Regions from separate parts of the Homo sapiens genome. Here regions 1 and 2 are each linked to region 3. Evidence: fine-mapped expression QTL. A gene starts in region 3. Each other region holds a variant in brackets. All regions are shown on one strand. Distances are between the middles of the regions. Region 1 overlaps R3HDM2 (R3H domain containing 2). Region 2 overlaps INHBC (inhibin subunit beta C). Region 3 holds the start of MARS1 (methionyl-tRNA synthetase 1).

Region 1 (10,263 bases), 150 kb before region 3:
CTTTTCTTTTTTTTTTTTTTTTTTTTTTGAGACGGAGTCTCGTTCTGTTGCCCAGGCTGGAGTGCAGTGGCGCAATCTCAGCTCACTGCAAGCTCCGCCTCCCGGGTTCACGCCATTCTCCTGCCTCAGCCTCCCAAGTAGCTGGGACTACAGGCACCCGCCACCACGCCCTGCTAATTTTTTTGTATTTTTAGTAGAGAAGGGGTTTCACCATGTTAGCCAGATGGTCTCGATCTCCTGACCTTGTGATCTGCCCGCCTCGGCCTCCCAAAGTGCTGGGATTACAGGCGTGAGCCACCGTGCCCGGCCGGAATCTTTAGGGTTTTCTATATCTAAGATCCCATCGTCTGCAAATAGAGATAATTTTACTTTTTCCCTTCTAATTTTGATGCCTTTTCTTTCTTTTTCTTGCCTTGTCATTCCACCATCCTCTCTTGGCGGAATGACTGCAACATCCCTCTAATTGGTCTCTTTACTTCCACTTTCACCCCTACCATAGTATTTTGTAAACAGCAGCCACAATGATTGTGTAAAAACGTTGTTAGGTCATTTTACATCTTTGCTCAAAATCCCCCAATGGGTCTCCATCTCACTCAGAGCAGATGTCCCTAAAATGATCTACAAGACCTTAAATGACCTGACCACCAGTGTTTGTTCTTTGACCCTATCTCTTACAAAACCCCAAATACCTCCTATACCATTTCCTTGACTTTATTTTTCTCGTCGTTTATCATTGTCAAACTATCAATTTATTTTACTATTTATCTTGTTTATTATCTCTCTGTCCCCAAGGTACACTCAAAGAGGGCAGGGATTTTGATTTTGCTTTGCTCGCTGCTTATAAACAGGGTCTAGAATAGTGCCTGGCATATAATAAGTATATTTTAAATAAGTGAATTAAAGTAATTTGCAGGCTGGGCAATATAGGGAAACTCTGTCTCTGTAAAATTTTTTTATGGCTCACGCCTGTAATCCCAGCACTTTGGGAGGCCGAGGTGGGTGGGTCATGAGGTCAGGAGATCAAGACCATCCTGGCTAACACGGTGAAACCCCGTCTCCGCTAAAAATACAAAAAATTAGCCGGGCGTGGTGGCAGGCGCCTGTAGTACCAGCTACTTGGGAGGCTGAGGCAGGAGAATGACATGAACCCGGGACGCGGAGCTTGCAGTGAGCCAAGATCACGCCACTGTACTACAGTGTGGGTGACAGAGCAAGACTCTGTCTAAAAAAAAAAAAAAATTTTTTTTTTTAATTAGCTAGGCATGGTGGCATGTACCTGTAGTCCCAGATACTTGAAAGGGTGAGGTAGCAGGATCATTTGAGCCCAGGAGGCTATGGTGAGCTGTGATTGTACCATTGGATTCCAGCCTGGACCACAGAGCAAGACCCTGTCTTGAAAAGAAAAAAGTAATTTGCCATATTAATAGAATGTAAACAGTGGCCAGGTATGATGATCCATGCCTGTAATCCCAGAACTTTGGAAGGCTGAGGTGGGAGGATTGCTTGAGCCTAGGATTTTGAGACCAGCCTGAGCAACATAGTGGAACCCTGTCTCTACAAAAATAAAAATAAAAAAATAAACCAGGTGTGGTGACACACACCTGTAGTCCCAGCTACTTGGGAGGCTGAGGTAAGAGGATCGCTTGAGCCTGGGAGGTCAAGGCTACAGTGAGCTGTGACTGCATCACTCCAGCACTCCAGCCTGGAGTGAGACCCTGTCTCAAAAAAAAAAAAAAAAAAAAAAAAAGTAGGTGGCAAAGCTAGAATTCAACTCAAGAATGCCTCCAAATTCATGTTCTTTCTTTGATATCACACTGTTTTCTCAAAACGGTCTGCTGCTTTCCCAAATTCAGATCAGGATGGCTTTCCCAAATTTTCACCTAAGAGATCAGTGTTTCTCATTCAAAATAAAGCTTAGCAAGAAAAGATCTGCAAGATCTAAAAAACTGTGTGAACTGAGATTCAAGCTTATAACCTGTGAATCTAACGTGATACTTTTTTCCTCCTGCTTTGTGCTTATCCAATGAACCAAACCACATTCCTTATTCTTACCCTAAGGTGAGTTATCCAGTCAGATACTGAACACACTTTTTGTCCCTCTTTGCTTAATAGAGAATCTAAAATTGGTTTTTCCTGAGATGGAGGTGATGATATAATGATTCATATCTTACAGAGAGCTGAGTAGCTCAAAAGAAAGGAATAAACTCATGGGCCTTTGGATATCGCTTTCAATCCTTTAGCTCTGTAAATACCTAAGTATGAGAACACTGGGAGAGCAAAGAATAAGACCCACCATAATTTCTCAAGTATCCCTTGACATAAAGTGTAAGAAGGGAAACGCAAAACTCTTGACTTCTTTCATTTACAAGATCTAGAGAGGGAAATTTCTATGAATGAATCATTCTTATTCTCTTGGGCATTAAAATAGGAAAAGGAACATGCCATGATCTGCTATGACAAGGAACCAACACTGAGCTCAGTGAAATATCCCAGACCTAAGTCAATATATACAAACAAGCTAGAGAAGTAAAGATGGAAAACATGGAAGCTACCCCCAGCTATTCCTCTATCTCCAGACCAAAGAGAGAGACAACTATATAATGTTGACAGGGATCTACCATGTCAGATTGGAGTAGAAAAAAAAGAAAAACATGGAAGAAAAAAGCTAATAATTTCCGATGCAGATTTAAAAGCTATCAAAATAAGAAAGGCAGCTTCAGGCCAGGCACAGTGGCTCATGCCTGTAATCCCAACACTTTGGGAGGACAAAGTGGGTGGATCACCTAATGTCAGGAGTTTGAGACCAGCCTGGCCAACATGGTGAAACCCCGTCTCTACTAAAAATACAAAAAAATTAGCCAGGCATGGTGGCAGGCGCCTGTAATCCCAGCTACTTTGAAGGCTGAGGCAGGAGAATTGCTTGAATCTGGGAGGCAGAGGTTGCAGTGGGCTGAGATTGCGCCACTGCAGCCTGGGTGACAAGAGCGAAACTCCATCTCAAAATAAATAAATAAATACATAAATAAATATTTCTAGAGGGAAGGAGGGAGGAAGGAAGGAAGAAAGGAAGGGCACTGGATGTGGTGGCTCATGCCTGTAATCCCAGCACTTTTGGAGGCTGAGGCGGGTGGATGACGAGGTTAGGAGTTCGAGACCAGCCTGGCTAACGTGGCGAAACCCCATCTCTACTAAAAATACAAAAAATTAGCCGGGCGTGGTGGCACGTGCCTGTAATCCCAACTACTTGGGAGGCTGAGGCAGAAGAGCTTGAACCCAGGAGGCAGAGGCTGCAACGAGCCGAGACTGCGCCACTGCACTCCAGCCTGGGACAGAGCGAGACTCCGTCTCAAAAAAAAAAAAGAAAAAGAAAGAAAGGCAGCTTCACATATATAAAAAAAACCTCCTCTAGTCCAGAAGGTCATAGTTAGACTTAGACTTAGCACAAGCCCAACTGGCTGCAGTAGCAGCTCAATTCACAGATAGGTGGTAGGTATTTCCCACCATATCCTCCCCCAATCAAATCACATTAAGAATATGCAATTATCAAATTTATATTTAACAGCAAATTTAAAAAACACCTTACACCATTTTTGAAACATTTTATTTCACAGTTTCTATATACAGTTAGGGTGTTAATGTCACCTATTATCGAATAATAAATTCTGCAAAGTTAAATGATAATGTGTTTATGTTCTATCTGTTCATTGGCCCCTGGGTCAGCCAATCTGATCCAAGACTCCATGGCAACAGGCTCTATCACTAAGAGCCTCAAGATGAGATTTCCCTTGCCTTTTTTTTTTTGAAATAAAGCATTTTCCATAGAAACTGCTGCAAAAACTGTCAGAGAATAGTCTATACAGACAAATAAGAAATGCTGCCATTCTGTTATACTAAAAATGAATGGGGCAAGGAGTGAATAGCAAAGACAATCAATCTATGCAAATAACAAGGGATCCCAAAAACCCTGGAGATTTTTCCTTGTTGAATTTCAGTAAAGAAATTCAAGAATCTTTAAACTGCTGGAAAACCAACACCAGGATATATTGAGGAATCAGTGTAGGGATATATTGAGGAATCAGTGAGGAATCAGTGTTCAGCTAAATCACAATATTTAAACTTCCCATGCCTCAATATACGGAGAGCTAAAGACTTTAGTTTAGGACTGCTGGCCAGGTGTCGTGGCTCATGTCTGTAATCCCAGCACTTTGAGAGGCCAAAGCAGGAGTGTCACCTGAGGCTAGCAGTTTGAGAGCAGCCTGGGCAACATAGTGAGACCCCACCTCTACCAAAAAAAAAAAAAAAAGTTAGCTGGGTGTAGTGGTACCTCTGTGTAGTCCCAGCTACTTGAGAGGCTATAGCAGGAGGATCCCTTGAGCCCAGGAGGTTGAGGCTATAGTGAGCTATGATTGGGCCATTGCACTCCAGCCTGGGCAACAGAGCAAGACTCGGTCACTACAAAATATATAACATATATTTTTTCATATATATAATTTAGTACTGCTGATCTGTGTCAATCTCCCATACTTTTTATTTTTTTGACACAGAGTCTTGCTCTGTCACCCAGGCTGGAGTGCAATGGCATAATCTCAACTCACTGCAACCTCTGCCTCCTGGGTTCAAGTGATTCTCCTGCCTTAGCCTCCCAAGTAGCTGGGACTACAGACGCCTGCCACCACACCTGGCTAATTTTTGTATTTTTAGTAGACACGGGGTTTCACCATGTTGGCCAGGCTGGCCTCAAACTCCTGACCTCAGCCTCCCAAAGTGCTGGGATTACAGGCGTGAGCCATCACGCCCGGCCACCTTTTTTTTTTTTTTTTTTTTTAAGTGACAGCATCTTGCTATGTTGCCCATGCTGGAGTGCAGTGGCCTAGTCACAGCTTGCTGCAACTTTGAACTCCTGGGCTCAACCAATCCTCCTGCCTCAGCCTCCCAAATAGCTGGGACTACAGGCAGGTGCCACCATACCCAGCTAACTTTTTTTTTTTTTTTTTGGTAGGGACAGGTTCTTATTAGGTTGCCCAGGCTGGCCTTGAACTCCTGGCCTCACAAGATCTTCCCATGTCGGCCTCCCAAAGTGTTGAGATTATAGGTGTTAGCCAGGCATGGTGGCTCACCGTTGCAAACCCAGCAATTTGGGAAGCTGAAGCAGGAGGATGGCTTGAGCCTATGAGTTCCATCATCCATAAGGAACTTAAATGTACAAGAGAAAAACAAACAACCCCATTAAAAAGTGGGAAAAGGATATGAACAGACACTTCTCAAAAGAAGACATACATGCAGACAACAAGCATATGGAAAAAAAGCTCAATCTCACTGATAATTAGAGAAATGCCAATCAAAAACACCCACAATGAGATACCATACCATAGTATCTAATGGTATCTCATTGTGGGTTTTTTTTTTTTAATTTCATACCTCACACCAGTCAGAATGGCTATTATTAAAAAGTCAAAAAATAACAGATGCTGGTGAGGTTACAGTGAAAAGGAAACACTTATACACTATTGATGGGAGTGTAAATTGTTCAATCATTATGGAAAGCAGTATGATGGTTCCTCAAAGAGCTAAAAGCAGAACTACCATTCAACCCAGCAATCCCATTACTGAGTTTATACCTAGAGGAATATAAATCATTCTACCAACATAAAGACACATTCACATGAATGTTCACTGCAACACTATTCAGAATAGCAAAGACGTGGTCGATTTAGGTTTAATCAACCTAAATGCCCATCAATGACAGACTGGATAAAGAAAATGTGGTACATACACCATGGAATACTATGCAGCCATAAAAAAGAATGAGATAATGTCTTTTGCAGGAACAGGGATGAAGCTCAAGGCTATTATCCTTAGCAAACTAAGGCAG[G/C]AACAGAAAACCAAATACCGCATGTTATCACTTATAAGTGGGAGCTAAATGATAAGAACTTGTGGACACAAAGAAGAAAACAATACACACTGGGGTCTACATGAGCGGGGAGGGTGACAGGAGGGAGAGGACCAGAAAAGATAACTATTGGGTACTGGGCTTAACACTGGTGGCAAAATAATATGTATAACAAACCCCTGTGATACATGTTTACCTGTGTAACAAACCATCATATATACCCCCAAACCTAAAATAAAAGTTTAAAAAAAAAAAAAAAGAGGCTATGGAATAGAACAAAGGTTTCTAGAGCTAGGCAATGCTAATGTTTACATTACAAAATTGTCTTCCATGCTTTACTTATAAGTAGATTCTTGAAGTTGAAAAGTAATTTTTCAAATAAATTTTTGAAAATTATTTGTAAAAAAGTCTAGATCTCATGTGTTAGCACTTGAGTTCCAAGGGACCCACACAGCAGACTAACGTGAGAAGCAATAGACAGAATTTCAGAAATTCCTAAACCTGAGAAAATCTTTTCTGGAATGCTATTTCAAATTTCCCAAGAATTCTCTTTCTCTCTTTTTGTTGTTGTTGTTGTTGTTGTTGTTGTTTTGAGACAGGGTCTCGCTCTGTTGCCCAGGTTGGATGGAGTATAGTGGTGCTATCTCAGCTCACTGTGGCCCCAATCTCATGGGCTCAAGTGACCTCCTGCCTCAGCCTTCCAATTAGCTGAGCCTACAGGGCCATACACTTGGCTGAATTTTTTTTGTTCTTTTGTAGAGTCTGGATCTCCCTATCTTGCCTAGGCTGGTTTCGAACTCGGGCTCAAGGGATCTGCCTATCTTGGCCTCCCAAAGTGCTGGGATTGCAGGTATGAGCCACCGTGCCCAGCCCAAATTTCCCAAGAATTCTTAAGGCAACAACTCAGAAAATGGGGTAGAAGCAACTTTCAGTGGGAGTCATAAATTGTATTAAAGCATTTTTTTAAGTCACTGCAAAGAAAGTCACTAGTAGGCCTATCTGCACGTTAAATTTCCTCTATACCATCAGCAAAAACAAAAAACAAACAAAAAAACCCGAAACATTGCACTCTAGTTCTATAACCTTGTGTATGTGTGTAAAGATCTTGGGTTAGCAGATATAGAAAGAGAGCATATTTATTAATCTCAGAAGGACAAGAAGGTGCATGAAGAGGGTATCTTCTCAGAGATGTTACCTCCCAATATGAAAGCCCCAGACTCGAATCATAGGAAGCTATCTTTCTCAACTAATAATAGCAGCAGCTATCATTTACTGTATTCCAAACACTATGTCCAGGTTATACAGGTCATCACAATTATTTGAATTTAACAAATGCTAAAAATTTTCATCTGTCAGATATGAACACTAGAAATTTTTATATTTTTTAATTTTTATGATTAGAAAAGTACTGCAGGTTTCTTTATACTTAGAAAAAACACGCATGGCCGGGTGCAGTGGCTCACGCCTGTAATCTCAGCTCTTTGTGAGGCTGAGATGGGCGGATCACCTGAGGTCAGGAGTTCAAGACCAGCCTGACCAACATGGAGAAACCCTGTCTCTACTAAAAATACAAAATTATCCGGGCATGGTGGCGCATGCCTGTACTCCCAGCTACTCAGAAGGCTGAGGCAGGAGAATTGCTTGAACCCGGGAGGCAGAGGTTGCGGTGAGCCAAGATCGCACCATTGCACTCCAGTCTGGGCAACAAGAGCAAAGCTCCATCTCAAAAACAAAAACAAAAACAAAAACAACACGCACAATTATAGAGAAGAAAACAAACAAACAAAAATACCCATGATCAACAACTCAGAGATAACTGCTATTAACAACATGATGTTTTGAGATATCTCTTTCTAAACTTTGTTTCCATATTAGTACAGAATTTGTATCCATATTGGTTGGATATGTTCAAGTGATCCTCCTGCCTCAGCCTCCCGAGTAACTGGGACTACAGGCGTGAGCCACCACGCCCAGCTAATTTATTTGCATTTTTGGTAGAGACGAGGTTTCACCATATAGCCCAGGCTGGTCTCGAACCCCAGACCTCAAGTGATCCACCCACCCTGGCCTCCCAAAGTAACATGCTGGGCTTACAAGTGTGAGCCACAATGCCTGGTCCTGATGTTCATTTTAAAAACTCAATCTCGTACATGGCTTGAAAATCTCTTATGGCTTCCTCAAAAATTACATGTGATCTGAAGACACAAATAGTACATCCCCCTGCCATTTTTTTTTTTTCAAAGGGAGAGAGAGAGAGAGAGATAGGGTCTCATTCTGCCACCTGGGCTGGACTCTATTTCTAAATATTAATAATAATGGCTAATGCTAAGTCTTTAAATGACCAGGAACTGTCTTAAAAGATTTATTATGTATATATTAACTCTTTTAATCCTCAAAACAACCCTAGGAAGTGGGTACTAATTATTGTCTTCGTTTTACAAATGTGTGTGCATGTGTGTGTCTTTTTAAAAGGCAGAGTCTTGCTCCGTTGCCCAGGCTGGAGTGCAGAGGTGTGATCTCGGTTCACTGCAACCTCTGCCCAGTAGCTGGGATTACAGGTGTTCGCCACCATACCCGGCTAAATTTTTTTGTAGTTTTAGTAGAGACTGGGTTTCACCATGTTGGCCAGGCTGGTCTCAAACTCCTGACCTCAAGTGATCCATCCGCCTCAGCCTCCCAAGGTGCTGGGATTACAGGTGTAAGCCACTACGTCTGACCCATTTTACAAATGGAGACGTTAAATAATTTGGCCAAGGTCACAGAGCAGCAATTGGCAAAGCTGGGATTTGAATTCCAGGGGGCAAGCATTCAACCAGTAAGTTTTTTCTAAAGAGAAGCTCTTGGCAGATGTGGTGGCTCATGACTGTAATTCCAGCACTTTGGGAGGCCGGTGGGTGGATCACGAGGTCAGAAGTTCAAGACCAACCTGGCCAACATGGTGAAACCCCATCTGTACTAAAAATACAAAAATTAGCTGGATGTGGTGGCATGCACCTGTAATGCCAGCTACTTGGGAGGCTGAGGCAGGAGAACTGCTTGAACCCGGGAGGTGGAAGTTGCAGTGAGCCAAGATCATGCCACTGCAGTCCAGCCTGGGTGACAGAGAAAGACTCCATCTAAAAAAAAAAAAAAGAGAGAGAGAGAAGGAGAAGCTGTTAACAGTGAGAGCTGTTAAGGGAGTGGGCTAGGAGAGGAAGATATCAGAGAGAAGAGAATTAAGTAGGTATAGTAACTTTTAGGCACAGTAGTGTCCTTCCAACATATATATCACATTTTTAATTATCCCAAACGGGGTGATGCTAAAAACAACCATTTATAAAAGTTGTTCTTGATCTTTCCTTCTTCCAAAAACAAAAAACAAAAAAAGTAGGGAGAAAAGGGGATAAAAAGAAACAGAAATCTTACTTCTCTAACATCTTTCAATAGCTTTTCTTTTTCCTTGACCTCTTCCAAAACCTTGATGGTTAGAAAATAAAAGATTTCAAAAGAAGGCACTCCCAGTTGAAATAAAAAGAACTTTTGGCAATTTTTCCCTTGGTAATGACAAACATTTAAGAAAGACTTTAGGTCTATCTTATCTACCCTCAAATGAAAGGAAAACCAAGTAAACAAAACCGTCATCTTTTAATTTCACAGCAGTTTTCTTCCCCCTCAAAGGCTATTCCTGTCCTAGTTGCAGACAGGGAACTGCTCCCAGTGACGTCAGAGCAGTCTCCCAGCAACGATTAATGAGGGTTGTCCACCACAGGGGTTTCCTGAAAAGCTAGCAAGAAATTATCCACAAATTTGCTGCAATATCAAGATGCAAGGATGTGGTGGAATTTCCCTTAACCCTTATAGCTCCTGTCTCTGGCAAACATCTAAATAGGTTATTCTTCTAGAATTCTCTCCATTTGCCCTAGGATTATCTTCCTTTTTCTCCTCCTACCACACCCCACCCCCCAAAAATAGATTGTGTTGGTCTGAAACATTTATGGCTGTAATAAATATTAATATAATTGAACTATCATAGAAAAATAAGAATACCTAATGTAAGCTGAGAAGCAGACATTATTACTCTTTTCACTTCACACAAAGAATTCAGAGTAAATGAAAGCACAGAACAGAAGAGAAAATAAAGACAGAAAATAAACCAGCATATTTTTAAAGGTACTTTTCCACATATGTTACCTAAACACACATTGACAGATAGGTAAACCCTTAATTTTCCTAGGCTCTAGTTTACTGAGTTTTTCAAACTGACCTCTGCAGCCCTCTAGAAATCAGCGGTATTAAAATGGAATTGCATGAAAAGCGACTGGAAGCCCAGATACTCAATCCAAAAAAAAAAAAAATGGGTTGGGCTGTTATGCTCACACCTAAGAGTATATATA
Region 2 (10,263 bases), 40 kb before region 3:
TTTTTTTGAGACGGAGTCTTGCTATGTCGCCAGGCTGGAGTGCAGTGGTGCAATTTTGGCTCACTGCAACCTCTGCCTCCCGGGTTCAAGCGATTCTTTTGCCTCAGCCTCCTGAGTAGCTGGGACTACAGGTGCACACCACCACACCCAGCTAATTTTCGTATTTTTAGTAGAGATGGGTTTTCAGCATGTTAGCTCGGATGGTCTTGATTTCTTGACCTTGTGATCTGCCCGCCTCAGCCTCCCAAAGTGCTGGGATTACAGGTGTTAGCCACCGCACCCAGCCACAGTTCCTTTTTTAGTTCATCTCTCTCCCGAAATGCCTTATCGTAGGCAACTAAAATATACCAACTGGCATTTTCAGCATTCTGCCTGGAAATATCATTAGCTAAATTCACAACTTTGTTAGATATCTTTCCTGGCTTCTAAGTTACCACAGGTGATAGCCAATACACAATACAAGTTCCCCTTTCTTCAGCTTCCAATAGCAATTTCCTCACTGTTCTTCCTTCCTTTACTAACAGTTTCTTCCCTACCCTTCTAACTTCTGCCTGCCACTCATTCCCGAAGCCGGTGCAACTGACCAAGCACAGTGGCTCATGCTTGTAATCCCAACACTTTGGGAGGCCAGGGTGGGAGGATCACTTGAGGCCAGGAGTTTGAGACCACCCTGGTCAATATAGCAAGATGTTTCTTTAAAACAAACAAACAAACAAACAAAACAAAAAGCCGGGTGCTGTGGCTCACGCCTGTAATCCCAGCACTTTGGGAGGCCAAAACGGGTGGATCACCTGAGGTCAGGAGTTCGAGATCAGCCTGACCAACATGGAGAAACCCATCTCTACCAAAAATACAAAAAATTAGCCAGGTGTGGTGGTGCATGTCTGTAATCCCAGCTACCCGGGAGGCTGAGGCAAGAGAATTGCTTGAACCCAGGGGGTGGAGGTTGCAGTGAGCCGAGTTCGTGCCATTGCACTCCAGCCTGGGCAACAAGAGTGAAATTCCATCTCAAAAAAAAAAAAAAAAAAAAAAAAGCCAGGTGTGGTGGTACATGCCTGTAATCCCAGCTACTGGGGAGGCTGAGGCAGGAGAATTGCTTGAACCCAGGAGGCAGAGGTTGCAGTGAGCCAAGATCACGTCATTGCACTTCAGCCTGGGCAATAAGATCAAAACTCCGTCTCAAAAAAAAAAAAAAAAAAAGTCAATGCAACATATTTTAGGTTTTTGTGATGGTAGCACCCCACTTCTGATACTAATTTTTGTTTCAGTTACTTATCAATATAACAAACCAGCCCAAAACATAGAGGCTTAAAACAACACATTCATTATTTCTCATGATTCTTTTTTTTTTTTTTTAGATGGAGTCTCACTCTGTTGCCCAGGCTGGAGTGCAGTGGCACAGTCTTGGGTCACTGCAACCTCCATCTCCAGGGTTCAAGAGATTCTCTTCCCTCAGCCTCCTGAGTAGTTGGGATTATAGGTGCCCGCCACCATGCCTGGCTTTTTTTGTATTTTTAGTAGAGACAGGGTTTCACCATGTTGGACAGGCTGGTCTTGAACTCCTGACTTCAAGTGATCCACCCACCTCAGCCTCCCAAAGTGCTGGGATTACAAGCATGAGCCATTGCCCCCAGCCACTCTCATGGTTTTGTGGCTTGACTGTGCTTATCTGGACAGTTCTTCTGCTCCATGTGGTGTAGCTGAGGTCTCCCATGCAACTTCATTTGGGGACTCAGATGGGACTGGAACATATAAGATGGTCTCTAATCCTCCAAAGTCTCTCTCCACATGACTTCTCCTAATTTAGTAGTCTAGCTCAACTTCCTTTAAAGCACTGCGGCTGGCTTCCAAGAGTGGAATGCCTCAATATGTAAGTACTCAATAAACACCATGCTTGCTAATGTCTCACTGCCCAAATCAAGTCACATGGCTAAGCCCAGAATTAATATGGAAAGGGACAGCACAAAGTCATGAATACTGGGAGGTGTTGGCCTTTGGGGCCAACAGTGTAATAGTCTACTACAGCCCCTGTTGGTCTTGTGTTTGCCTGCCATAACTGGAGTGACTTAAAAGGTACTAACTATAGGGTGCTTTGTGACCTAGCAAGGAAAAGATTAGTTGGGCCAGTCAGACTCTTTTAGGATTTTGGAATTGGGACACTGGAAGATCTGCTCACTTAGGAGGAGCTGAGCAAAAGGTCCTATAGACTTGGGACCTGGGCCACAATTTTGGGACCTGAGGAAGCTAACAAGGAGGCAGAAGTAGTAGATCCACAGAGAGAGAAGAGTGGAACTGACTTATCTAGAGAGAGAGATGAAAGAGATCTTATTGGCTCTGAGAGCTGTCAAGAGCAGCCTTGTTCCTGTTGGGCACGTTGGCTCACACCTGTAATCCCAGCACTTTGGGAGGTTGAGGTGGGCGGGTCACCTAAGGTCAGGAGTTCAAGACCAGCCTGGCCAACATGGGGGAAACCCTGTCTCTACTAAAAATACAAAAATTAGCTGGGCATGGTGGCAGGTGCCTCTAATCCCAGCTACTCGGGAGGCAGAGGCAGGAGAATTGCTTGAATCCAGGAGGCTGAGGTTGCAGTGAGCCGAGATTGCGCCACTGCGCTCCAGCCCAGGCGACAAGAGTGAGACTCCGTCTCAAAAAAAAAAAAAAAAGAACCTTATTCCTGACTTTCCAATTTACATGAAGCCTAGTTGAACTTCATACCCCGCCTTTTTGAGCCCATGAGAGTATCAGTTCCATTCCCATAATAAAGCACTCTTTTTTTTTTTTTTTTTTTTTTTGAGACGGAGTCTTGCTCTGTTGCCATGCTGGAGTGCAGTGGTGCGACCTCGGCTCACTGCAACCTCTGCCTCCTGGGTTCAAGTGATTCTCCTGCCTCAGCCTCCTGAGTAGCTGGGACTACAGGGGCGTGCCACCATGCCCAGCTAATTTTTTTTTCTTTTTTTAAGACAGAGTTTCACTCTTGTTGCCCAGGCTGGAGTGCAATGGCATGATCTCAGCTCACCGCAACCTCCGACTCCCAGGTTCAAGCAATTCTCCTGCCTCAGCCTCCCGAGTAGCTGGGATTACAGGCATGCGCCACCACGCCCGGCTAATTTTGTATTTTTAGTAGAGATGGGGTTTCTCCATGTTGGTCAGGCTTGTCTCGAACTCCTGACCTCAGGTGATCCACCCACCTTGGCCTCCCAAAGTGCTGGGATTACAGGCATGAGCCACTGCGCCGGGCCTCATAAAACATTTTTCACTTAAAAAAAAAAATGGCTAAGGCCAAATTACAATGGGTATTTAACTGTTTCCTAAAAGAGTTAGGACTTTATTAACTAATAAGGTTTTTGAGACCATGAATTTTATGATCCATCCATGTTTTGGGAAAAGAATCCTGATGTTAAAATAATTATAGAAATGAAAGACCATTCAACAAGTATTTTGTTTGTTTGTTTGTTTGTTTTTGAGACAGAGTCTGGCTCTGTCACCCAGGCTGGAGTGCAGTGGCGTGATCTCTGCTCACTGCAACCTTTGCCTCCTGAGTTCAAGCAATTCTCCTGCCTCAGCCTCCTGAGTAGCTGGGACTACAGGTGCATGCCACCACACTCGGCTAATTTTTGTATGTTTAGTAGAAATGGGGTTTCACCCTGTTGGCCAGGCTGATCTCGAATTCATGACCTCATGACCTCAGGTGATCCTCCCATCTCAGCCTCCCAAAGTGCAGGGATTACAGGTGTGAGCCACCACACCTGGTCTCAACAAGTGTTTATTGAGTGCTTACTAAATACCAAGTACTAGGGATACAATGGTGAGCCATACAGGCACAACCGCTGTTTTCATGGAGCTTACATTCTAGCTGCAGGGAAGAAAGAGGGGTAGGAGAAATACGTAGTAAACAAATGAACGAAGAACCACACTGGACCGGACTTGGTGGCTCATGCCTGTAATCCCAGCACTTTGGGAGGCCGAGGTAGGAGGATCACAAGGTCAGGAGTTCCGGAGCGGCCTGGCCAACATGGCAAAACTCCGTCTCTACTAAAAATACAAAAATTAGCAGGGCATGGTGGTGCATGCCTGTAATCCCAGCTACTCAGGAGGCTGAGGCAGGAGAATTGCTTGAACCGGGTAGGTGGAGGTTGCAGTGAGCCAAGATCGTACCACTGCAATCTAGCCTGGGTGACAGAGCAAGACTCTGTCTCAGAAAAAAAAAAAAAAAGAACCACACTGATTACAGAGCATGATAATGGCTATACAAACAGTTAAGCAGGATGATGTATTAGAGAGATGGAGGCAGAATTGAAGGCTATTTTTATTTTATTTTATTTTATTACGTTTTATTCTATTTTATTTCATTTTTGAGACAGCCTTGCTCTGTTGCCCAGGCTAGAGTGCAGTGGCATGATCTTGGCTCATTGCAGCTTTGACCTCCTGGGCTCAAGTGATTCTCCCGAGTAGCTGGGATTACAGATGTGTTCCTCCATGCCCAGCTATTTTTTATTTATTTATATATTTTTTAGTTATTGTAGAGACAGGGTCTCACTATGTTGCCCAGTCGGTCTCAAACTCCTGGCCTCAAGCAATCCTGCCACCTTGACCTCCCATAGTGCTGCGATTACAGGCATGTGCCACCACGCCTGGCTGAAGCCTGCTTTAGATAGATTAGGAAGGAAGCCTGAAGCCTCTCTGAGGAGGAGACATCTGAGCCGAATGCCAAAAAGAACTCAGTCATTCAAAGATCTTGGAAAGACATTCCAGGGAAAGAGACTAGCAAGTGTAAAGGCTATGAGATAGCTTTATGTTTGGTGAATTTGAGGAACAGAAAAAGGCCAGTATAGGCAGGGTGTAGTAGTTAAGTGTCAAACAAGTTTCCTATTTCAAGGAGTTTAGATTTTATCCAAAGAGCAAGGGGAAGACTTTGAAGTGTTTTAAGCTGAGAAGATAAAACTAATCAGATTTATAAAAAGATCACTGGCTGATATTTGGAGAATGGTTTGGAGAGCAAGAGTGAATCACTTGAGTGAACGAAAGCTACAGTTAAAGAAAAAGATGGTTGTGAGTTGGACTAATGAGTAGTAGAGGAAGTGGGGAGAAGTGAAATTATATTATGAATTAGAAGTAGAGTTGATAAAACTTTCAGATAATTTCAAAGTAGAGGATAAACACAATCAAGATTTTGCCTTAAGCAATGCGTTTATGGGGAGAAGTTTGGAGAAGGAACAGGTTTGGACTGGGGGGATACATTTAGACTTCCTTGTACAGGATTGAGGCTGGGCACATTGACTTATGCCTGTGATCTCAGCACTTTGGGAGGCCAAGGTGAGAGGATCACTTAAGGCCAGGAGTTCAAGACCAGTCTGGGTAACATAGTGAGACCCCCCGCCCATCTCCATGTAAATTTTTTTTTTTTTTTTTTTTTGGAGACAGAATCTCGCTCTGTCATCCAGGCTAGAGTGCAATGCAATGGCATGATCTCGGCTCACTGCAACCTCTGCCTCGCAGGTTCAAGTGATTCTCCTGCCTCAGCCTCCCAAGTAGCTGGGATTACAGGTGCCCGCAGCATGCCTGGCTAATTTTTGGTGGTTTTTTTGTTTGTTTGTTTGTTCGTTTTTTTGAGACAGAGTCTCGCTGTGTTGCCCAGGGTGGAGTGCAGTGGCGCGATGTCAGCTCACTGCAACCTCTGTCTCCTGGGTTCAAGCAATTCTCCTGCCTCAGCCTCCCGAGTAGCTGGGATTACAGGCATGTGCCAACATGCCTGGCTGATTTTTTGTAATTTTAGTAGAGACAGGGTTTCACCATGTTGGCCAGGTTGGTCTCGAACTCCTGACCTCAACTGATCCACCTGCCTCTGCCTCCCAAAGTGCTGGGATTACAGGCGTGAGCCACCACACCCGGCCTAAAAATTTTTTTTTAATTAAAAAAAGAGATTGAAATATCATTGGATGTCCAAGTCAAATATCAGATAGCCACTTGGACATACAAGGCTGGGGCTCAGGGAGAGGTCAGGACCAGATATATATATTTGGAAGTCATCAGCATATAGATGGAATTGAAAGCCATGGAATGGATGATCATTCTGGGAGAGGGTATAGATAGTGAAGAGAAGGGAGCTTAGGA[CTTTA/C]TTTATTTATTTATTTATTTATTTATTTATTTATTTATTTATTTATTTATTTGAGACAGGGTCTCATTTTGTTGCCCAGCCTGGAGTGCAGTGGTGCGTTGATGTCTCACTATAGCCTTGATCTCCCAGGGTCAAGCAATCCTTCCACCTTAGCCCTCCGTAGTAGCTGGGACTACAGGTGTACACTAGTACGCCTGGGTAATTTTGTAATTTTTGTAGAGACAGGGTTTTGCCAAGTTGTCCAGGCTGATCTCACTGATCTCAAACTCCTGGACTCAAGCCATGCATCCACCTCAGTCTCCCAAAGTTCTGGGACAAGTGTGAGCCACCACGCCTGGCCTGACTTCCAACATTTAAAGGTTGGGCCGACAAAGAGGAGCTGTCGATAGAGGAGAAAAAGATAGAGTGGCCACTGTTATAAAAGCCAAGAGAAGAAAATATGGAAGAAGGAGGGAGTGGTTAACTGTGTCAAACACTGCTTAAAGGTCAAGTAAGATGAATACAAATGGTTAGATTTGCTTTGTGGAAGGTGTTGGTGATCTTGACGTGTGCAATTTCAGTAGAGTGGAGGGAATAGAAACCCAACTAAGATGTTCAGTAAGGAAGGTGAGGGATGATAAGAGGAAATTGGGCAGTAGTAATAGGGATACAAAGAAATGCACAGACATTAGAACCATTCTGGTGAGACAAGGTATAGGGGGAATGAAGAAAGTAATCATAGTTTGTTTTTTTTTTCTTTTTTTGAGGCGGAGCCTCGCTCTGTCTCTCAGGATGGAGTGCAATGGTGTGGTCTTGGCTCATTGCAACCTCTGCCTCCCAAGTTCAAGCGATTCTCCTGCCTCAGCCTCCCAAGTAGCTGGGATTACAGGCGCCCACTGCCACGCCTGGCTGATTTTTGTATTTTTAGTAGAGATGGGGTTTCACCATGTTGGCCAGGCTTGTCTCAAACTCCTGACCTAAGGTGATCCACCTGCCTCAGCCTCCCAAAGTGCTGGGATTACAGACGTGAGCCACCACGCCTAGCTGATCATAGAGTTTTTACAGGTGATGAGGGTAGTGGCACCACCAAGAATGAAGAGGGGGTATATAGGAAGGAAAGTAATTATTTTTCAGGTTGAAAAAATTGATTAAAAAAAATATATAGGCCAGGCGCGGTGGCTTACGCCTGTAATCCCAGCGCTTTGGGAGGCTAAGCAGGGCGAATCACTTGAGGTGAGGAGTTCAAGACCAGCCTGACCAACATGGAGAAACCCTGTCTCTACTAAAAATACAAAATTAGCTGGGTGCAGCTACTTGGGAGGCTGAGGCAGGAGAATTGCTTGAACCCGAGAGGCAGCGGTTGCAGTGAGCTGAGATTGCGCCATTGCACTCCAGCCTGGGCAACAGGAACAAAACTCCGTCTCAAAAAAAAAAAAAAAAAAAAAAAAAAAAAAATATATATATATATATATATATATATATATAAAATATATGTGTGTGTGCTTGTGTTTGTATATATGTATGCATACATATATACATATATATACACACATGCATACACACATATGTATTTATAAGATGGGGTCTTGCCATGTTGCCTGGGCTGGTCTTGGGCATGTTGCCTCAGTCTCCCAAGTAGCTGGGATTACAGGCATGCACTACTCCACCCAGCTCTGGGACAAATTGATTTTAATGTGCTGCCAGGACATTCATGTGACAAAAGTAAGTAGTTAGAAATCTAGGCCTGAAGCTTGGTGATTTCCAAATCTATATGTCCGGTCCAAATATGCAAAATGCTCTGGTCTGGGCATACAGATTTGGGAATCACCAACATAAAAATTGTGTTGCTTGGCTGGGCGTGGTGGCTCACGCCTGTAATCCCAGCACTTTGGGAGACTGAGGTGAGTGGATCACAAGGTCAGGAGTTCAAGACCAGCCTGGCCAACATGGTGAAACCCCATCTCTACTAAAAATACAAAAATTAACTGGGAGTGGTGGCAGGCACCTGTAATCCCAGCTATTCAGGAGGCTGAGGCAGAAGAATCACTTGAACCCAGGAGGCAGAGGTTGCAGTGAGCCAACCTCACGCCACTGCACTCCAGCCTAGGTGACAGAATGAGACTCCGTCTAAAAAAAAAAAAAAAAAAAAAAATTATGTTGCTTGACCATGAGTCTAATTAAGAGCTCCCTTAATGTAGACTAGAAGGAAATGAAAGTCCAAGACAGACCTTGGAAAACTCTGATATTAAAGGGATGGTCAGAGAAAGAAAAGCCAGCAAAGAAAACCAGGAAGAATTATAACAGAGTTGTGTCATGGAAGCCAAGAGAGAAAAGATTTTCAGGAAGGAAAGAATTGTCAGCAGTGCTGTCTTAGTCCGTTTTGTGCTGGTGTAACAGAATACCACAGACTAGGTCATTTATAATGAGCAGAAATATATTAACTCATGGTTCTGGTGGCTGGGAAGTCCAAGATCAAGGGGCTGGCATCTGGCGAGGGCCTTCTTGCTTCTTGCTGTGTTATTCCATGGCAGAAGGGCAAAGAGAGGGTGGGGCTGATAATTAAACTTATCCTTTTATAAGGTACCCATTCCCAAGATAAGGGCATTAATCCATTCATGAAGGTGGTATTCCCATGACCCAAACACCTCCCATTAGGCCCCACTTCCCAACACCACTGCATTGGAGGTCCAATTTCCAGCACATGAACTTTGGAGGACATGTTTAAACTGTAGCAAATGCCAAGTGCTATAGACAACTCAAGAATGCTGAGTACAGAGAAATAGTTGGTAGAACTGACAGTCAGAAGGCCGCAATGACTGGGGCTTCTTATGTCCACAGGCCTCTCCACCATCAACCAGACTCGTCTTGATTTTCACTTCTCCTCTGATAGAACTGCTGGTGACAGGGAGGTCCAGCAGGCCAGTCTCATGTTCTTTGTGCAGCTCCCTTCCAATACCACTTGGACCTTGAAAGTGAGAGTCCTTGTGCTGGGTCCACATAATACCAACCTCACCTTGGCTACTCAGTACCTGCTGGAGGTGGATGCCAGTGGCTGGCATCAACTCCCCCTAGGGCCTGAAGCTCAAGCTGCCTGCAGCCAGGGGCACCTGACCCTGGAGCTGGTACTTGAAGGCCAGGTAGCCCAGAGCTCAGTCATCCTGGGTGGAGCTGCCCATAGGCCTTTTGTGGCAGCCCGGGTGAGAGTTGGGGGCAAACACCAGATTCACCGACGAGGCATCGACTGCCAAGGAGGGTCCAGGATGTGCTGTCGACAAGAGTTTTTTGTGGACTTCCGTGAGATTGGCTGGCACGACTGGATCATCCAGCCTGAGGGCTACGCCATGAACTTCTGCATAGGGCAGTGCCCACTACACATAGCAGGCATGCCTGGTATTGCTGCCTCCTTTCACACTGCAGTGCTCAATCTTCTCAAGGCCAACACAGCTGCAGGCACCACTGGAGGGGGCTCATGCTGTGTACCCACGGCCCGGCGCCCCCTGTCTCTGCTCTATTATGACAGGGACAGCAACATTGTCAAGACTGACATACCTGACATGGTAGTAGAGGCCTGTGGGTGCAGTTAGTCTATGTGTGGTATGGGCAGCCCAAGGTTGCATGGGAAAACACGCCCCTACAGAAGTGCACTTCCTTGAGAGGAGGGAATGACCTCATTCTCTGTCCAGAATGTGGACTCCCTCTTCCTGAGCATCTTATGGAAATTACCCCACCTTTGACTTGAAGAAACCTTCATCTAAAGCAAGTCACTGTGCCATCTTCCTGACCACTACCCTCTTTCCTAGGGCATAGTCCATCCCGCTAGTCCATCCCGCTAGCCCCACTCCAGGGACTCAGACCCATCTCCAACCATGAGCAATGCCATCTGGTTCCCAGGCAAAGACACCCTTAGCTCACCTTTAATAGACCCCATAACCCACTATGCCTTCCTGTCCTTTCTACTCAATGGTCCCCACTCCAAGATGAGTTGACACAACCCCTTCCCCCAATTTTTGTGGATCTCCAGAGAGGCCCTTCTTTGGATTCACCAAAGTTTAGATCACTGCTGCCCAAAATAGAGGCTTACCTACCCCCCTCTTTGTTGTGAGCCCCTGTCCTTCTTAGTTGTCCAGGTGAACTACTAAAGCTCTCTTTGCATACCTTCATCCATTTTT
Region 3 (9,756 bases):
CAGGTGCCTGTCACCACACCTGGCTAGTTTTTTTATTTTTAGTAGAGACAGGGTTTCACCATGTTGGCCAGGCTGGTCTAGAACTCCTGACCTCAGGTGATTCACCCGCCTCAGCCTCCCAAAGTGCTGGGATTACAGGTGTGAGCCACTGCGCCCGGCCTCATTTATGCTTTTATCAAGGATTGATTGAGTGCCTCCTGCGTGCAAGGAGCAGTGTCAGGCACTGGAGATGAGAGAAGGGAATGAGCCCTTTTGGAGCTTAAGGAGAGACAGACCTTAACTAATGACACAATAAACTTAATAATTACAATTGAATCAGGAACAATGGACAAGTAATGCAAGACGCTATGACAGGTAGATAGGGGACTGATGCCAGCTTCTCCTTGGTGGAAGGTGGGAAGTGACCTTCCCTGGATTACCAGCACTTTAAAACCCACACTTCTGCTTCTGCCTTACCTGGCCACTCCTCTTTTCCTCTTCTCTCAGCTTCTCCACTGCACAATGTGAGGCTTTCTGTTTGGGTTTGGAGAGGTGGGTTAAGGAGCGAATGACCCTCCCCACTGGTGATATCAGAGAGCCAGCTCTCTTCCCCTGAGGGCTGGGTGGCTAGTACTGGGCTTCTGCCTCAGTGATCTTCCTAGTTTACTTCACTTCAACACATGGAGAATCCTACCCCTCAACTCTTCCTTCCCACTTCCAAAATAGTGACTAATTTCACCCATTTATTCACTTATTTATTCATTTGGTGTTCAGTGCTTGAATCCACCCTTTTTTTGCCTTCTCTGAAACTCTCTCTCCTATACTTTAGCTTGTTTTTGTTAGCTTCGTCGCATTCACTTTTAAACATATCCAAGTCTCTCCCATCTTTAGACAAACCTCCCCTTACTGGGCTTTCCAGGTACCACCATATATATGTCTCTCTCTCTTTCTTCTTCTCTTTTTTTTTTGAGACAGAGTCTTGCACTGTTGCCTGGGCTGGAGTGCGGTGGCACAATCTCTGCTCACTGCAACCTCCGCTTTCCAGGTTTAAGTGATTCTCCTGCCTCAGCCTCCTAAGTAGCTGGGATTAGAGGCGCCTGCCACTATGCCCGCTATTTTTTTTTGTATTTTTAGTACAGACAGGGTTTCACTATGTTGGCCAGGCTGGTCTCGAACTCCTGACCTCGTGATCTGCCCACCTCAGCCTCCCAAAGTGCTGGGATTACAGGCGTAAGCCACCGAGTCCAGCCTCTCTCTTTCTTTTTACAGTCGAACTTCTTGAGTTGCCTACACTGTAGAGGGGATCTCCATTTCCTGTCCCCTCACTCCGCCACCTTTTCAAAGTCACTCCTCAATAGAGTCACCCCCGACCTTGCCTGAGCATCCTGCAGTCCTTATGCAATCCTTATGTTGCTTGACATCTCAGTAGCAGGCAACACAATTGACCTTTCTCTCCTACAAACACTCTGCTGGTATCCCTCTTACCTTTCTGGCAGTTCCTTGTCTGTGGCATGAGAAATGACCTTCCTCTGCCTGTTCCTTAAACCACAGAAGCCTATCTGAGATCCTGTGCCCTGTGCTTTCTGCATACCCTCCCTGGGTGGTCTTATTCTCTCCCCAGCTCAAATGATTTCCATGTGCTGCTAAGGACTGTATCTCAAGTCCAGATCTTTCTCTGGGGCTCCCATCTAATCCACTGTCCACCAGAAAATCCACTTGAGTATTTCACAGGTACGACAAACTCAGTATGAACCAAACTGAACTTATCACAAACCTGTTTCTCTCCCAATACCACTATTTAGTTTAATATGAAATCAATAAATATTGGCCTGGTACAGTAGCTCACACCTATAATCCCAGCACTTTGGGAGGCCAAGGCAGAATATCACTTGAGCCTAGGAGCTTGAGGTGCAACATAGTGAGATCCTGCCTCTACAAAAAAAATTTTTTTTTTTTTTGAGTCGGAGTCTTGCTCTGTCGCCCAGACTGGAGTGCAGTGGCGTGATCTCGGCTCACTGCAACCTCCGCCTCCCAGGTTCATGCCATTCTCCTGCCTCATTCTCCTGAGCAGCTGGGACTACAGGTGCCCGCCACCATGTCCAGCTAATTTTTTGTATTTTTAATACAGACGGGGTTTCACTGTGTTAGCCAGGATGGTCTCGGTCTCCTGACCTCGTGATCCACCCGCCTCGGCCTCCCAAAGTCCTGGGATTACAGGCGTGAGCCACCGCGCCTGGCCAAAAATTTTTTTTAGTTAGCCAGGTATGGCAGTGTGTGCCTTGTAGTCCCAGCTGCTCGGGAGGCTGAGGTGGGAGTATCTATTGAACCTGGGAAGTTGAGGCTGCAGTGATGCGTGATAGTGCTACTGCACTCCAGCCTAGGCGACAGAGTGAGACCCTGTCTCAAAATAAATAAATAAAATAATTTAATAAATATTTATTGAATGTTTACTACCATATATGCCGGGCAGGAACTATGTGCTAGGCATTGTCAATTAAGATGGTAAATATGGGGCCGGGTGCAGTGGCTCACATCCAGCTCAATCCCAGCACTTTGGGAGGCTGAGGCAGGCAGATCACCTGAGGTCAGGAGTTCAAGACCAGCCTGGCCAATGTGGTGAAACCCCCATCTCTAATAAAAATACAAAAATCAGCTGGGCATGGCGGCAGGTGTCTGTACTCCCAGCTACTTGGGAGGCTGGGGTAGGAGAATTGCTTGAACCCAGGAGACGGAGGTTGCAGTGAGCTAAGATCATGCCACTGCGCTCCAGCCTGGGTGACGGAGCGAGACTCTGTCTTAAAACAAAACAAAAAAATATGATCCCTGCCCACTCATAACAATGAAAATATGATGTAATAATGATCACTATGATAGAGGAAATACTATCATCTGTTGTAGCACATAGAAAGTATGCCCTATTTCCCATGCCAGAAACCTAGCAGCCAACCTGAATTTATCTTGTTTCCTCGCCACCCACATTGATTCAATTGATTACTGAACACTTCAATTTATATTTTCCCAATCTACCTACTTTTTATCCCCACAACTACCACTCCTTTAGCCTGGATGATATAATTTCCTAACTAGTCTCATTGCATATAGTTCTCATTGCATATAGTTCTGCTCCCCTTCCAACCATTCCTGACACAGCAGCCAGAGTGACCTTTCTAAAACACATATGCCCTGCTACTCTCCTGACTTAGACTTTCCACATTTTATAATGTCATTTACAGATTCCCTCTCTACACTTTTCACAGTCTCCACCACAAACTCCACACTGCAGTCTTATGCGAATTCCTCACATTCTTAAAGTGCACTGAAATCTTAGATTCTTTGCATATGTTGTTTCCTTTGCCTGAAACACGTCCCTTCTCCACTCCCTCCAGTCTTCACCTAGATAACTCTTACGCATCACTGAGATCTCAGCTGAAAGATTACATGCACAGGAAAGCATCTCAGCCAGGCGTGATGGCTCACACCTGTAAACCCAACACCTTGGGAGGCTGAGGCGGGTGGATCACTTGAGGTCAGGAGTTTGAGACCAGCCTGGGCAACATGGTAAAACCCCATCCCTACTAAAAATACAAAACTTACCTGGGTGTGCTGGCCCAGCTACTGTAGTCCCAGCTACTTGGGAGCCTGAGGCACAAGAATCACTTGAACCTGGGAGGCAGAGATTGCACTGAGCTGAGATCATGCCACTGCACTCCAGCCTAGGTGACAGAGCAAGACCCTGTCTCAAAAAAAAAAAAAAAAAAAAAAAAAAATAAGGCCGGGTGCGGTGGCTCACACCTGTAATCCCAGCGCTTTGGGAAGCCGAAGCAGGCGAATCACAAGGTCAGGAGTTCGAGATCAGCCTGGCCAACATGGTGAAACCCTGTCTCTACTAAAAATACAAAAAATTAGCTGGGCATGGTGGTGGGCGCCTGTAATCCCAGCTACTTGGGAGGCTGAGGCAGGAGAATCGCTTGAACCCGGGAGGTGGAGGTTGCAGTGAGCCAAGATTGCGCCATTGCACTCCAGCCTGGGCGACAGTGTGAGACTCTGTCTCAAAAAAAAAAAAAAGCATCTTTTCACCCATTAGAGGGGCCCTAACTAGGAGGTACGATGGCAGGCTTTGCCTCCTCTATCATAACTTTAATCACACTTTAAGGATTATTTGATTTTCTGACTTTCAGGAAGTCTGTGAGTGCTGCCAAGGTAGCAGAAGCCCACATCCATTTTGTTGATAACTGTACCTTCAATGCCTTCTACAGTCACTTCTACAGTGATTTCTGGCATAAAGTCATAACTTTATGCCTCAGTTCCCTCATTAGTAAAATGGCGATGAGAGACCTACCTCAGTTTGTTTGTTTATTTATTTTAGACAGAGTCTCGTTCTGTTGCCAGCCTGGAGTACAGTGGTGCGATCCCGGCTCACTGCAACCTCTGCCTCCCAAGTTCAAGCAATTCTCCTGCCTCAGCCTCCCAAGTAGCTGGGATTACAGGCATGCGCCACCATGCCCAGCTAATTTTTGTATTTTTTAGTAGAGACAGGGTTTCACTATGTTGGCCAGGATGGTCTCGAACTCCTGACCTCAGGTGATCCGCCTGCCTCGGCCTCCCAAAGTGCTAGGATTATAGGTGTGAGCCACTGCGCCCAGCGTATTTATTTATTTTTTTTGAGACAGAGTCTGGCTCTGTCGTCCAGGCTGGAGTGCAATGGCACGATCTCAGCTCACTGCAACCTCTGCCTCCCGGGTTCAAGTGATTCTCCTGCCTCAGCATCCTAAGTAGCTGGGATTACAGGCATGCACCACCACACCCCGCCAATTTTTTGTATTTTTAGTAGAGACTGGGTTTCATCATGTTGGCCAGGTTGGTTTCGAACTCCTGACCTCAGGTGATTTGTCCACCTCGGCCTCCCAAAGTGCTAGGATTACAGGCATGAACCACCACGCCCAGCCTCTTGGCTAGTTTTAAAAACTATTTTTGGCCAGGAGCAGTGGCTCATGCCTGTAATCCCAGCGCTTTGGGAGGCCAAGGCAGGTGTATCACCTGAGTTCAGGAGTTTGAGACCAGCCTGGCCAACATGATGAAACCCCGTCTTTACTAAAAATACAAAAATTAGCCGGGCATGGTGGCAGGTGTCTGTAATCCCGGCTACTAGGGAGGCTGAGGCAGGAGAATCGCTTGAACCCAGGAGGCGGAGGTTGCAGTGAGCCAAGACCACACCATTGCACTCCAGCCTGGGCAATAAGAGTAAGACTCCATCTGAAAAAAAAAAAAAACAAAAAAACTATTTTTTTTATGTTGGCCAGGCAGTCTTGAATTCCTGGGCTCAAGTGATCCAGCTGCCCAAAGCACAGGGATTACAGGCATAAGTTACTGGGCCTGGCCTAGTTTTTTGTTTGTTTGTTTTGTTGTTGTTAATGTAACAACAGCCATTTTATTATAGTTTAACAATTGTATAGGTATGGAGCAGAAATTTGGGTAGGCCTTAGGTGGGTGATTCTTCTATCTCATGTGGCCTTGAGACCCTACCAAGGGTTACTTAAGAGTTTTCAGTGGGCAGATGGGCTGGTCTGGAAGGCTTCACTCACAAGTCTGGCACCTTGGTAAGGATGACTGGAATGCTGGGATTAGCTGGAGTTGTCAGACAGAATATCTACATGAGACCTCTCTAGCATGGCAGCTCAAAGTGGTAGGATTTCTTACATGGCAGCTCAAAGCTACCAGTGTGCTAGATAGCCTGCAACTGAAGCTGCAAAACTTCTTATGGCCTAGCTTCAAAAGGCCCAGAACCTCCATAGAATTTTCTGAGATCAAATATAAAGTGCTTAAAACAGTGCCTAGCTCATAAGTACTATTAGATATTAATTATTCTTAAAATAATATAAAGATGAATAAGAAGCGTCCCTTTCTCAATAACAGGTATGTGCTTCCTTGCATAATATATACTTATTGCCAAACTCTTAGCCATCTTGAATCTCAATTTTTTTTTTTTTGAGACGAAGTCTTGCTCTATTGTGCAGGCTGGAGTGTAGAGGCACGATCTCGGCTCACTGCAACCTCTGCCTCCTGGGTTCAAGTGATTCTCCTGGCTCAGCCTCCTGAGTAGCTGGGATGACAGGCGTGCACCACCACACCCAGCTAATTTTTGTATTTTCACTAAAGAAGGGGTTTCACCACGTTGGCCAGGCTGGTCCCAAACTCCTGACCTCAAGTCATCTGCTCGCCTCGGCCTCCCAACGTGCTGGGGTTACAGGCGTGAGCCACCGCGCCCGGCCTTACTTCTCAATTTCATCTTTTCCCTAGAGATGTTTGGCCGGGCGCGGCTGCACGCCTGTAATCCCAGCACTTTGGGAGGCTGAGGCGGGCGGATCACGAGGTCGGGGGATCGAGACCATCCTGGCTAACACGGTGAAACCCCGTCTCTACTAAAAATACAAAAAATTAGCCGAGCGTGGTGGCGGGCACCTGTAGTTCCAGCTACTCGGGAGGCTGAGGCAGGAGAATGGCGTGAACCCCGGGGGACGGAGGTTGCAGTGAGCCGAGATCGCGCCACTGCAGTCCAGACTGGGGGGCAGAGCAAGACTCCGTCTCAAAGAAAAAAAAAAAAAAGAGATGCTCTTCTACCCCTTTGATGAGACGTCGAGCTGTATATGAACTCAGACTGGTATTAATATTTTACTTGTCTACATTCTTTTTTTTCGAGACGGAGTTTCCTCTTGTTGCCCAGGCTGGAGTGCAATGGCGCGGTCTCGGCTCACTGCAACCTCCGCTTCCCGGGTTCAGGCGATTTTTTTTGCCTCAGTCTCCCGGGTAGCTGGGATTACAGGCGCCTGCCACCATGCCCAGCTAATTTTGTATTTTTAGTAGAGACGGGGTTTCAGCATGTTGGCCAGGCTGGTCTCGAACTGCTGACCTCAGGTGATCCGCCCGCCTCGACTCCCCAAAGTGCTGGATTACATGCATAAGCCACCGCGCCCGGCCTATGTACATTTTTGTTGTTGTTGTTGATAGGATGGATATGTACACTAACTTCCACTTTGTCACTAATTCCGCACATGGTAACTCCGAACTCTAAAACTCTGACCGTTAAGAGCTTGCATCGAGAGCCACTGCGAGTAGCTGCTGTTATGACATGGCCATTTCATTCTCCACAACAAGAGAAGCAGCCGCGGCTTCAGTCACCGCCCTCCAGCAGCGTAAGAGGATAAAAGTGCGACTTGCCCTAAAACCTAAACGTCTCTTCTGGATCTCCAGAAAAAAAGTGCTGCTCTAGGCCGGGCGCAGTGGCTCACGCCTGTAATCCTAGCACTTTGGCAGGCCGAGGCGGGCGGATCATCTGAGGTGAGGACTTCGAGACCAGCCTAGCCAAAATGGTCAAAGCCCGCCTCTACTAAAAATACAAAAATTAGCCGAGCGTGGTGGCACGTGCCTGTAGTCCCAGCTGCATGGGAGGCTGAGGCCGGAGAATCACTTGAACCCTGGAGGCAGAGGTTGCAGCGAGCCAAGACCGTGCCACTGCACTTCAGCCCAGGTGACAGAGGGAGACGCCCTCTCACAAAAAAAAAAAAAAAAAAAAAAAAGTGCAGTCTAGCCCGCATCTGCGGCCTCTTCATCTCGATGATAGTCTTTTCCTGTGTCTTAGCGTTGCATGATGGGAGAAATAGTCTACTTTCCGGTAGCGGTGCCAGGGCAGTGGCCTAATACGGAACTCCATTTCCCGGCGTGCCTCGCGGAGGCCGCTGAACTCAGAAGCGGGAGGCCGGTTCCGGTTGCATCAGCGAGGGATTCACGGCGAAATGAGACTGTTCGTGAGTGATGGCGTCCCGGGTTGCTTGCCGGTGCTGGCCGCCGCCGGGAGAGCCCGGGGCAGAGCAGAGGTGCTCATCAGCACTGTAGGCCCGGAAGGTACTCGTGCTGGTGCTGGTGGGCGGTGGATGGGGGGGCGGGACCGAAACACGCCAGATTCTCTGCAGCTGTCTTTGCCAAACCCCTAGCCCTCGCCACACACCCCAATCGACCACTTCTCCTATTATCCTTGATCACTCCACGCCTTCTTCCCTCCCAGTCACATCTTTCACTTCCTTTAATTACCCTCAATATAATACCCTTCCCTTATCTCTCTCCTCCCCTCTTCCGTCTTCCCGGTCCCCGCCTCACCCCAGTAAACTGCTCTTCCCTTCCCAACCTTCTCCTACACCTATCAGGCATCCCCCTCTGCTCTTTAGTTACTAGCATGACAGCCCCCAGGCACCCTTTTGTGTTCTTAGGAAATCCCTCTCTCCCCTCCTAACACACACACACGTTCCTTTCTGTTTACCTCTTCTCATTCTCAGCCGATTGTTTGGGTGACTCTTAGGAGGTTCTCTTGTAAGTCTTCTCAGTTCTTTTAATTTTGTTCTCCCACTGTGACCTTCAGATAATTATGAAGATATCCCAGTTACTTTCAGTCGTTAAGTTCTTGGCTGCAGCACTATCCCAATACCACCACCTCCTCTGCAGTCCCCATCTGTTGCTTCCAGCTGGCAGTTTCAGCTGAACACCTGCTGGCCTCTCCAGCCCATTCCGGACCACCCCCTTTCAGTGGTCCTATCCTGGAACTTCTGGGTTGAGACTGCCCATCTTTCTTTTTTTACTCACTGAACAATGCAAGGTTATCCTAAGTTGACAAAGTATTTCTTTTCTTTTCCTTTTTTTTTTTTAACCCATTTTCCATTCTTGCATCAGATTGTGTGGTCCCGTTCCTGACCCGGCCTAAGGTCCCTGTCTTGCAGCTGGATAGCGGCAACTACCTCTTCTCCACTAGTGCAATCTGCCGGTCAGTATTGGTCCTTGGTGTAGGGAGGTGGCTGAATCAAATCAGGCCTCACTGTCATTTGTGTGGCTTTATTTGCAGCCATTGTTTCCCTGTGTGATGAGAAATGGGCTAAATGGGCCCCTCTAAGTCCATCATCTGTTGCTCTCTCTCTGGGCAGATATTTTTTTTTGTTATCTGGCTGGGAGCAAGATGACCTCACTAACCAGTGGCTGGAATGGGAAGCGACAGAGCTGCAGGTAGGACTAAGGTATGGGGGATGTCAGGCAGGCCCTTGTTCTGCGTGGCCATCCTGACTCATGTCCCCTGCATTTTAGCCAGCTTTGTCTGCTGCCCTGTACTATTTAGTGGTCCAAGGCAAGAAGGGGGAAGATGTTCTTGGTTCAGTGCGGAGAGCCCTGACTCACATTGACCACAGCTTGAGTCGTCAGAACTGTCCTTTCCTGGCTGGGGTGAGTTGGGTCTTGAGATGAGGACTGGGGAAGGCTTATGGTGTAAGGATTAAGAGGGAAGACTGTATTCAGAGTGTTCGAACCCAACACTGCCACTTACTAGTAGTGTAATCTTGGCAAATCACTTAATCTCTCTAATCCTCAATTTTTTTCAGTTGTGAAATGGGATAATATTAGTACCTATCTCAGTGAGTTATTGTGAGGATTAAGTGAGATCATATAAAGTGCTTAATACAGTGCTTGACATATAAAGTGCTCAGTAAATGTTAGATATTACCATTGGGAAGAAACTGAGTGTCTCATTTGTGTACATTTTCCTTTTCTATCCCCAACAAAGGAGACAGAATCTCTAGCCGACATTGTTTTGTGGGGAGCCCTATACCCATTACTGCAAGATCCCGCCTACCTCCCTGGTGAGAACTGTGCATATCACTCCAACCCTAGGAGCTTGGTGTAGGGGTTACAGAATGGGCAGTAGAATACTGAGAACTCCCTTCAAGGTACAGCTTGACTGGGCAA

Evidence for each region. PIP is the estimated chance that this variant, and not a neighbour inherited with it, causes the effect.
Region 1: its variant is the best candidate, but not a certain one, in a credible set for the expression of MARS1 in whole blood (TOPMed, PIP 0.63).
Region 2: its variant is the best candidate, but not a certain one, in a credible set for the expression of MARS1 in whole blood (INTERVAL, PIP 0.82).

What each region holds. Positions count from the first base shown.
Region 1 is chr12:57,330,689-57,340,951 of GRCh38, forward strand. All of the region lies in intron 2 of R3HDM2 (R3H domain containing 2), which reads right to left. Among named protein-coding and RNA genes, the nearest start is that of STAC3, 85 kb to the left of the region's middle. The variant G/C (reference allele first, on the strand shown) is at 5,873.
Region 2 is chr12:57,440,345-57,450,607 of GRCh38, forward strand. It overlaps INHBC (inhibin subunit beta C), which reads left to right. Exons shown (of 2, transcript NM_005538.4): 2 at 8,933-10,263. The coding sequence ends at 9,678. Among named protein-coding and RNA genes, the nearest start is that of INHBE, 9.8 kb to the right of the region's middle. The variant CTTTA/C (reference allele first, on the strand shown) is at 6,112.
Region 3 is chr12:57,480,322-57,490,077 of GRCh38, forward strand. It overlaps MARS1 (methionyl-tRNA synthetase 1), which reads left to right and starts at 7,747. Exons shown (of 21, transcript NM_004990.4): 1 at 7,747-7,878; 2 at 8,698-8,788; 3 at 8,946-9,024; 4 at 9,103-9,237; 5 at 9,575-9,650. The coding sequence starts at 7,770. It also overlaps a transcript of ARHGAP9 not described here. RefSeq lists enhancers at 6,724-7,671, 7,485-7,874, 7,672-8,618.